3 separate regions of the Homo sapiens genome follow, and all the other regions are linked to region 1. The links come from fine-mapping of genetic effects on gene expression. A gene starts in region 1. Each other region holds a variant in brackets. All regions are shown on one strand. Distances are between the middles of the regions.

Region 1 (2,760 bases):
CCGCGGCGTCCAGGGTACCCCAGCCCTAGTCTCTCCTCCCAGGGAGCCCGGCGCTTCCCTTACCCGACTGTAGCGAGAACCTCCGGGGAATCCCTTCTTCCTCCCCCAGTTCCCACACCCAGGACCCAGCTGCGGGGAGGCATCCCACACAGGAGACGCAGAGGCAGTGAGATCGGGGGTGAGGGGACGTGTGGCAAGCCCCAGCGTGCCTGAAGCAAAACAGGGTCAGGTCAGCCAAGGTGCCGGCCGCCACGGGATGAGGGCAGGAAGCCTTTGCGAAGGGCTGGGATTGCCTGTAGTCTGGGGCGGCCCTAGAATTTCTACATAGAAAGACTTAGGGCCACCAACTGCTGAAAAGCGGGGGCATGAAAGGGGTGGGGAGTGGATTGTTACCGACTAGGTTGAAGCTGGGTTTGCAAAACCACAACACTGATACTATTTGCATGGATGTTTAAGGGGGAGGGAGGATCCTGCGAGGATTCAGCGGAGTGAATCGCCTCCCACCACCACCTCTTGGTGACACTGCTGCACAGAAGTGCCGACTAGGTGGCCAAGGTGGGTTCACAGGGAGGGAGGTACCTTGGCAGGTTGGGAAGGTGGGAGCAGGCGGGGCGGGGTCAGGGGCGGCTGGCTCACCCGTGTCTTGGCGGAACTGGTTCATGGACTGCAGGTCGATGATGTAGGGCGCGAGACGGCTGTCCACCTGGCCCAGCACCACGCTGCCCCCCGCGCGGGGGCCGGCGCGGACCACCGCCTCGATGTGGTGGCTCACCGCTGGGCTGTAGGGACGCCAGCGGCCGTGCTCGTTCAGCCATTCCCAGACCACCACGGCCGAGGCCAGGAGCATGGCGAGCCCGGGGCTGCGGCGCTGCGCGGCCCGCCTCCCGGGCCCCGAGCGCCCGACCTCCTCCGCTTCCTCCTGCGCCGCCGCCTCCGGGCCTCGACCGCGCCCCCTGCCCCGCGCCCCGCCGCCCCGGGCAGCCTCAGCTCCGGCCCATGGGCTCCTCCCCAGCCGTGCATCCACCGGGGCCGGGACACCGGGGCCGCCTGGCTGGGACCGCGCGCCGCCGCCGCCGCCGGGGTCCGCTGCTGCTGCCGCTGCTCTGTGGGGTCGAGTCGCTTCATGCAAATGCCCGGCTCTCTGCAAACAGGCCCCCGCCTTGCAAAAGCCACTCGGCGGGCGCGCGGCCCGAGCCCCGGCGGCCGCGAGCTGGGGCTGACGGCGAGGCAAGGACCCAGCCCTCGCACCAGTTGCGCCTCGGCCTCTGCAGACGCCGGGGTGGGATCTCGCCGCACGGCCGCGCTCGGAATGGCACGCTCTGGTCCCCTCCCCTCTCTCCCTCCCTCCCCACCCCTTCGCCGCACGAATTGCAGTCCCCGCCGCTGGGAGAGCTCCCCCTGCCTGTGGCTCTGCTCAGTTCCTTCCAGAATGAACCACCCCTCCCAAGCAGGGCGCTAAGGCAAACCCGCGCCCGCGTGTGTTTCCCTGGTTCCTTGATGCAGAGAAGCGACCCGCCATGACACGGCCCCGGGACCACCACTGTCGCCCAGCCGCAACTTTGCAGCCTCCTTCCCCCAAATGTAATTTTCTCTCTCTCTCTCTTTTTTTTTCCTTAATGCAGCATGATCAGTGTCCGCAGCGCGAACTGGAGACACGCATTGTCTCGGGGCTTGCGCACGCACTGGCACACTCACAGTCGCACACACACGCGCGCGCACCCCAACTCCTTCCTTGCCCCGGCTCCTATTACCTCATCCTCTCCCGCATCCTTAGCTGTCCGTCAAGGAAGCAGAAGACACGCCCCCTGCTGCTCGGGCGAGTGCCCTGGAGCTTACCCGCCCCCTGCTGGCCTAAAGTGTCGTGTGCCGGCCAGTGGCCACTCCAACCTCTGCTAATGAGACCCAGTCCAAAGGGATGCAGCAATTTCGCTAATGATGGATTTATATTACCTACGTAGAGAGCAAATGTGGTTTTTCTGGCCAGATTCAACGTACTAGAGTCAGGAAGACGCATGTTAGATTAATTTTATCTGCATCGTTTCTGTAACTAAAATTATGAAACACTAGGAAAAACACGAGTTAGACTTATTTTGATCATCAATAGTTAATATGGAAAATAACCTTAAATAGGTAGGTTCTGACTAAAAGGGAAGACTGAAGTCAGGATTATGCATTATCCTTGTCAAAGAACACAAATTTTGTTTTGTTGAGATTGCAAACCACATAAAACAACGAATCGAGTCTTATCAAGATCCAAGTTATAGGATGCGGGAAAGTAAAAATAGATTATGTGTTAGAGAATGGGATTGTGAATCTTTTTGAAATAATCAATTTTTTCATAAATATCATATGACCCTTTTATGTTTTAGAAGAGTTGCTTCCCCCTCCCTCTCCTTGCAGCTGTCATTTCTCCCATTGTTAGAATTTTGCATCCTTCTACCTTTATCTTTCTCCCAACAGAGTTCTAAATACAAAGCAAAAGAAAAAGTGTGAGATCTGTTCTTCTTCAGGCCCCTAAAGGCACCAGGCTCAAGGAACCTCTGAGCTTTGTTCTTTCTGGTCTTCTTGCACAGCTTGGCCTCCAAAATGCCTAGTCGGCCTCTCCCTTATTTGGGGACTGTTCCTAATCCAACCTAAACAATACCACTCATTAAAATGTCGAGTTTCAGAATTAGAAGAACAAAAAGAAAACAAGGATACCTCGACTAATTATATCATAGGCCATTATTATTACCATTTTACAAATGACAGGACTTAAGG
Region 2 (2,760 bases), 77 kb before region 1:
CCATAGAATAGGTCTTTCTCACCATCTGGGAAGCAACTGGGCAGCCCTCTCCAGTGAACATTCACCAACCTAACTGACCGCCTCCAGCCACAACTGCCTCTCTTCCTTGAGATCGAGCCCTGCCAACAAAATGCCACTTTCAAGATCAAGCAAGTTCAGGGTAATTATACTTTTCCCAAGTCACATCAGCTCTGGATAATTTTCAGAGCTATTTCCAGGTCTATTTTAAGGGATAACTCGATGTCGCAATGCGTGAGAGTCAATTGGATACATGATTCCCAATGACTCCATGCTTGCCGTGTTCCTGGTCTCAGAAAGCTTTTCAAAGAAAAGCTCAGGGTGGGCTCTCTCAGCAGGGGATACCATATTATTATGGCTTCCCAGAAGAGGGCCTACCCCCGCCATCACTCCAAGCAGGATCAAAGAATCAGAGTCTCTTCAAAGAACAGACAGCAAGCACTATGGGTGGAAGGCCACAGATGCCCTACAGATGTGGTTGGGCAACTATTTTCTAGGTTTTACCAGGTTGGTTTATAAGTCTATCTGAAGACTGAGAACAGATTTCGGAGAACATCTTCTCCTATTTATTCTGGTTACAGCAAAATAAATAAATGAATGTTTATGTTACTTTCAATGAGCTAAAATAGTTATTTACAAAGACAGACAAGACCTGCTTTAAGCAAAAGTATAAAATTCTACAACTTTGTCCTCTGTGCCACCACCTCCCTCTTTAAGCCTCTCTCATCCTGATTCTGGGTTCTTTGTTCTTTCCATTACCACTTGCCTGCATTCTCATGCAGCTATCTTTTCCTGTGACTGTAGGCACTAGTTAAATTCTGGCCCTACCAATGACTGGCTGTGATCCAGTGAGCAGCCAAGGCAGAAAACCACTGCCTCAGAGTATCCCTCTCTGAAAAGCACTGAAGCCTTTGCAGCAGTCTTGAAACCTGTTCGAGTTTCCTCAATCTTGAGGATTCCTTCGTTTGACATTGCCAGCTGTTGTACCTACTCTTCCATTTTCTTCTCTCCTTCCACTGCTAAACTGGCATAACTTCCGTCAGTACCTGGCCTTGTTCAAATCCCCTCTGAGCTCCATTCCGGATATCCCTATCTGAGACCAATGAGTTCCACCCCTACCATTCTGTTGAAATTGCTCTGGGAAGACCACACCTCCCTTCCTTCTTGCCAAATCAATGGCCTTCTGTTTATATTTTCTCTCTTTGAGTTCCATGCCATGTTCATTAAGCATCACTGAGCAGTGACAGATTTGAGGATCAGGATAAGGAATTTGGATGTCATCAGGCCATCAGTGAACAAAAAAACTAATGAACGCTCTTGAGCAAAAAATGACATGATTGGATCTGTGCTTTAAGGAGGTCCATTTGCAGGTTAAGGAGGAAGAATTGAATTTGAGAGAGTCTGAAGGCGAATTATGAACAATCAGTTTAAAATTGCCTGAGTCCCCCCACAAAAAAATTCTTGGAGTTGGAGATGACATGAAAAGAGGGTTCTATTGATTCTACCGATAATGTTTCAAGTAGTATTAAAGAACAATCCATTCTGAAGGTGGGAGCAAGGGAGGCAGGAATTGTAAAGCACCATAGTCTTCTAGTTTACTATCCTCACACCCTTCAGTATGCAATAAGATATATAAAAAAAAAAAAGAGGATTCTTTAGGTTTAGGGTTTTTTTT[TC/C]CCTAAAAAAAGATTTAATTACAAACTACTGAATTGGCCATAGTAATCATTTCTCCAATATCTAGCCTCAGAGAGAGACCCCAAGAATGTAGGCATGATGCCCAGAGCTGGGAACTCGAGGAGGGAGTATAATTTGTTTAGCTTCACAGTAGGAGACTCTGGCCCTGGCAGAGGAGAAGCTGATGGGGTTTTGGGTGGAGAAGGGAAATTGTAACATTTTTCTCATCTGGATGCAAGTTGAAGAGCTGCCAACATCAACAGGGTGTGGCCACCATCTTTCACAAATCCTTGAAAGAAGCTGTGGTGTGCTGTGGGTTTACACAATGCCCACTTCCTTCTGTTTCTTGTATGTCCTCCCCAAGACACACAAATAGACTTCAAGTATTTTCAAGATGGATATTTGATAAATCAAAAACAAAACACGTACATGAGGGAAATCTGGCCTTAGTCAAACAGCAAGAGGTTATTTTTCTTTTAAACTCCCTGCCCACTGATCTTTTGAAAGATAAGTGTTATCAGGTGATTTTTTAAAAAAATTGCCATCCATTTCTCAGGTCCTTATAGGGGCAGTGGTGTATGGAGGAATGAGGATATTATGAAATAAAGTGTTACAAGAGGCCCTATGCACACAATAAAAAATGTTAGTACATGTCAATCTCCTTTCTTCTTTCTTTTTGTTTCACAGAATCAGAATCTCAGGATTTTAAGGAACCCATAAGGTTAACTAATTCAGATTGTCTTTTAAATCTTAAATCCTGTCACTGTCAAGTGTACCATCTTCTGCTTACACACGTCCAGTGATGAGAAATTTAAAGCTTTCTGGGCTATCCATTCTACTTTTGAACTATACTATTGTTTTCCTAAAATTCTCTCTCTCTCTCTCTCTGTCTATCTTTGTCAGAAGGGTTCTGTAAAATATCTAGTGCTTTACAAAGGTAACTGCTATTGTCTGAAATTGTCACATATTTTGGAGCCAAAAACCAGTCTCAGATTGCATTGACTCCAGGGATATATTATTGGAACCACACCAGGAACTAGGAATAACATGGAAGCTGAGCCAATGGAA
Region 3 (2,760 bases), 22 kb before region 1:
CCAAAGATTGGCAACAATCCATATGCCCATCAAATGGAGACTGCTGAATGCAAATAGTGGTACATTTATACAATGGATGATTACACAGACACAAGAACGAGGAAGCTCTCTCTATACTGATGTGGAAAGATCTACAGACTACATTGTTAACTGAAAAGCGCAGGGTGCCAAACAATGTGCCTAAATGTCACTGTTTGTGAAAAAAAAAAGGGAAGGGTGGATGCGATTTTCTGTTGTGTGTGCACAAAGAATCCTGGAAGGATACATAGGAAAGTCAGAACAATAGTGTTGAGTCGGGGGATGTAGTGTCAGCGGGCAAGGCTGGGTAGATGGCGGAAAAGTGTGGGAAGGAGACTCTTCATATGTAACTTTTTACCTACAAACACATAGAACAATAAAAACCAAGGGGTGACAGAAAGGCTCACCTGAGAGAAAGGCTCACCTGAATGCCGGGGGGGATGCTGTAGATGATCCGGATGGTTTTGCAGTCTGGGTGGCCAGGCAAGGAGTGGGGGATGAGGTGGTACTCCATCTTCCCTGGAGGTTGGGTGCCTGTCTTCACCCCATAAATGGTCTTGCAGGTTGGACACTGCAAACTTCCATCCTGAGGGGCCAAGGCCAGAAGAGCCAGATTGGGAAACAGTTTTGGTAATAACTTTCCCACCCAGTCCCAAAAGGTACCAGAGATGAAGGGCCAGGGGAACAAAATGCACCCTGGTGAGTGATAGATCTTAGTTTTTCCCTCCCAGCCCAGTCACCTAGGCTATTTCTGCTTTCTCCAAAGTAATAGGAGGTAAATTCCACAACTGGTCCCATGCTCCATGCTGAGGGATATGTAAGAGAAGCCCCTGTCCCTGAGGAGGGGACCAGCTCTCTAGGGCAGGAGCCTACACAGGGAGTCATTATTCAGCCACTCAGTACCAAATGGGTGGAACAGACAGAAAGACCTGGAGAGCAGCAACTGCCCAGTTCCTGAGCATCAGAATCACCCACAGAGCTTGTTAATCACACAGATGCCTGGGCACCACATCGGGTCCACTGAGTAAGAACTGGGAAGCTGCAAAGCATAATGTTTCAGGCTGTGAATG[T/C]GAAAATCAGACTGCCTAGACGTAATTCTTAGCTCTGCCATCTGACTGCTGTGTGACCTTGGACAAATTAATTAACTTCTCTGAGTCTCAGTTTCCCTTATAGGAGAAGGATAAAAAATATCTGTCTCATCGGGTTGTTGGGAGAATTAAATGAGATAATCTATAGGAAGATCTTAGCATGTGGTGTATCTAAATGTTATTAGCATTTTTATAATTTCCATGGAAAGACTGATGCTCATACAGGTTTGGAAACTACTGCTATGAAAAGAGAAATTGGCCACTAAGAGCTGGAGTAAATGAGGATAACTTTAAGAAAATGGTCCTTGAAGAATAGCTATGAATTTGCTTAGAAGGATAGAGTGTAAGGTCTGCACAAATACCTAGAAGAGAGAATGATGCCAGTAATTATAGTGCTTTAAATCATACTATAAAGAGTTTAATATTTCTTGTTTCATTTAGGCTTTAGCTTCTGACAATGGCCTGGAAGAAATTATTAGCCCCTTTTTGTAGAGAGGAAAATCGAGGCACAGCAAGATTAAAGGACTTCCTGCTTGTCAGGGTGTGGGGTCTGTTTAAACCCCCAGCTTTGCATTGCAACTCGGTGGCTCCATTAGTGGGAAGAGGCAGTTCTGGATGCAGGGGTGTACAGGGTGACGGTTTCACTGCAGGACCTGGTGAGGTGCTGCCTGGAGGAGGGCCTGGACACCGAATCCTATTCCCAGGCTCGCAAAAAGGAGGGGCAAAGAGAAGGAAGGCGCATGGGCTGGGAGCAACGTGTGTAAAATGTGCTGCTGCGCAGCTGGGATGAAAGCTTGCCAGGACATCCCCAACTCCTCGGGAAGACAGGGATCCTCTGCTGAGCTATTTAGGGACTTCTCCAGTCTACTCGCTTAAAGCAATAGCTCGTATTCAGGGTGACTATTCTCTGAAACCAGGTTCCCACTTTCTGCTTTGGCCTTGACTTGCTTCATGACCTAGGGTGAATCACTCCTTTCTTCTTGGGCCCTTTTCTCTCATGTGTTTGATAAAATAAAAACACATGCTTCAAAGTATTAGTGCAAAAGAGAATAAAGCATAGACTCTTGAGAAACATTTTTGAAAGCCCCATGGAAATAAATGTAGAGTTACCATATTCTTCTTGAATATAGACATCAAATAGGGAACAAATGTGCTAAGAAACCCCTTTAAGCCCAAAATAACTTCTTGAAATGCAAGATCCCAATGAATCCTTTTAGCCCAGGGTTGGGAAAGTGAGCAAGTGATCCAGATTTGCATCCCCCATCAATGACTGACCACCACTATAAGCATGTCTCTCAGGGACACCAAGAAAGCACTTTGGGAACTTCAATCAAATAGGCTACATGAAGATGAAGGAAAAAATTACAGCCTTTAATACAAAGGCGATATCAATTTGAATAATAATAGCATAAGACCCCATAAAGTAGGTATAGTTTTAATCTCCATTTTCCAGATGGAAAGTCTCTCTCAGAGATTGGAAAACCTTGTCCAAGGTCATTCAGCTAATAAGCCAGGATTCAAGCTCAGGTCTCCCACCTCTCTTACCTCTACTTCTTTCCCACAGTAAGAGACGTATAGACCAGACCAGACAGACGTATAATCCAGACATACTTCTTGCTTAGTGAGAGGTTGGGAGCTATCAGGGAGATCTCAG

Which allele goes with the higher level. Alleles are on the strand shown, and positions count from the first base shown. SD is a standard deviation of normalised expression in the study named. Not every link is listed here.
In carriers of allele C in region 2, the expression in prefrontal cortex of the gene that starts at base 1,311 in region 1 tends to be higher than with TC alone (large effect, 1.0 SD a copy in ROSMAP).

What was found.
Region 2: its variant is fine-mapped to the expression of DTX4 in prefrontal cortex (ROSMAP, PIP 0.95).
Region 3: its variant is fine-mapped to the expression of DTX4 in whole blood (TOPMed, PIP above 0.99).

What each region holds. Positions count from the first base shown.
Region 1 is chr11:59,170,683-59,173,442 of GRCh38, reverse strand. It overlaps DTX4 (deltex E3 ubiquitin ligase 4), which reads right to left and starts at 1,311. Exons shown (of 9, transcript NM_015177.2): 1 at 637-1,311. The coding sequence starts at 847. It overlaps LOC124902601 (basic proline-rich protein-like), which reads left to right. Exons shown (of 2, transcript XM_047427951.1): 1 at 1-178; 2 at 713-2,760. The coding sequence ends at 1,521. RefSeq lists enhancers at 245-354, 1-625, 1,253-1,547, 1,634-2,174 and silencers at 695-744, 805-1,374.
Region 2 is chr11:59,247,223-59,249,982 of GRCh38, reverse strand. No RefSeq gene overlaps it. Among named protein-coding and RNA genes, the nearest start is that of MPEG1, 36 kb to the right of the region's middle. The variant TC/C (reference allele first, on the strand shown) is at 1,694.
Region 3 is chr11:59,193,052-59,195,811 of GRCh38, reverse strand. It overlaps DTX4 (deltex E3 ubiquitin ligase 4), which reads right to left. Exons shown (of 9, transcript NM_015177.2): 7 at 443-604. Among named protein-coding and RNA genes, the nearest start is that of MPEG1, 18 kb to the left of the region's middle. The variant T/C (reference allele first, on the strand shown) is at 1,089.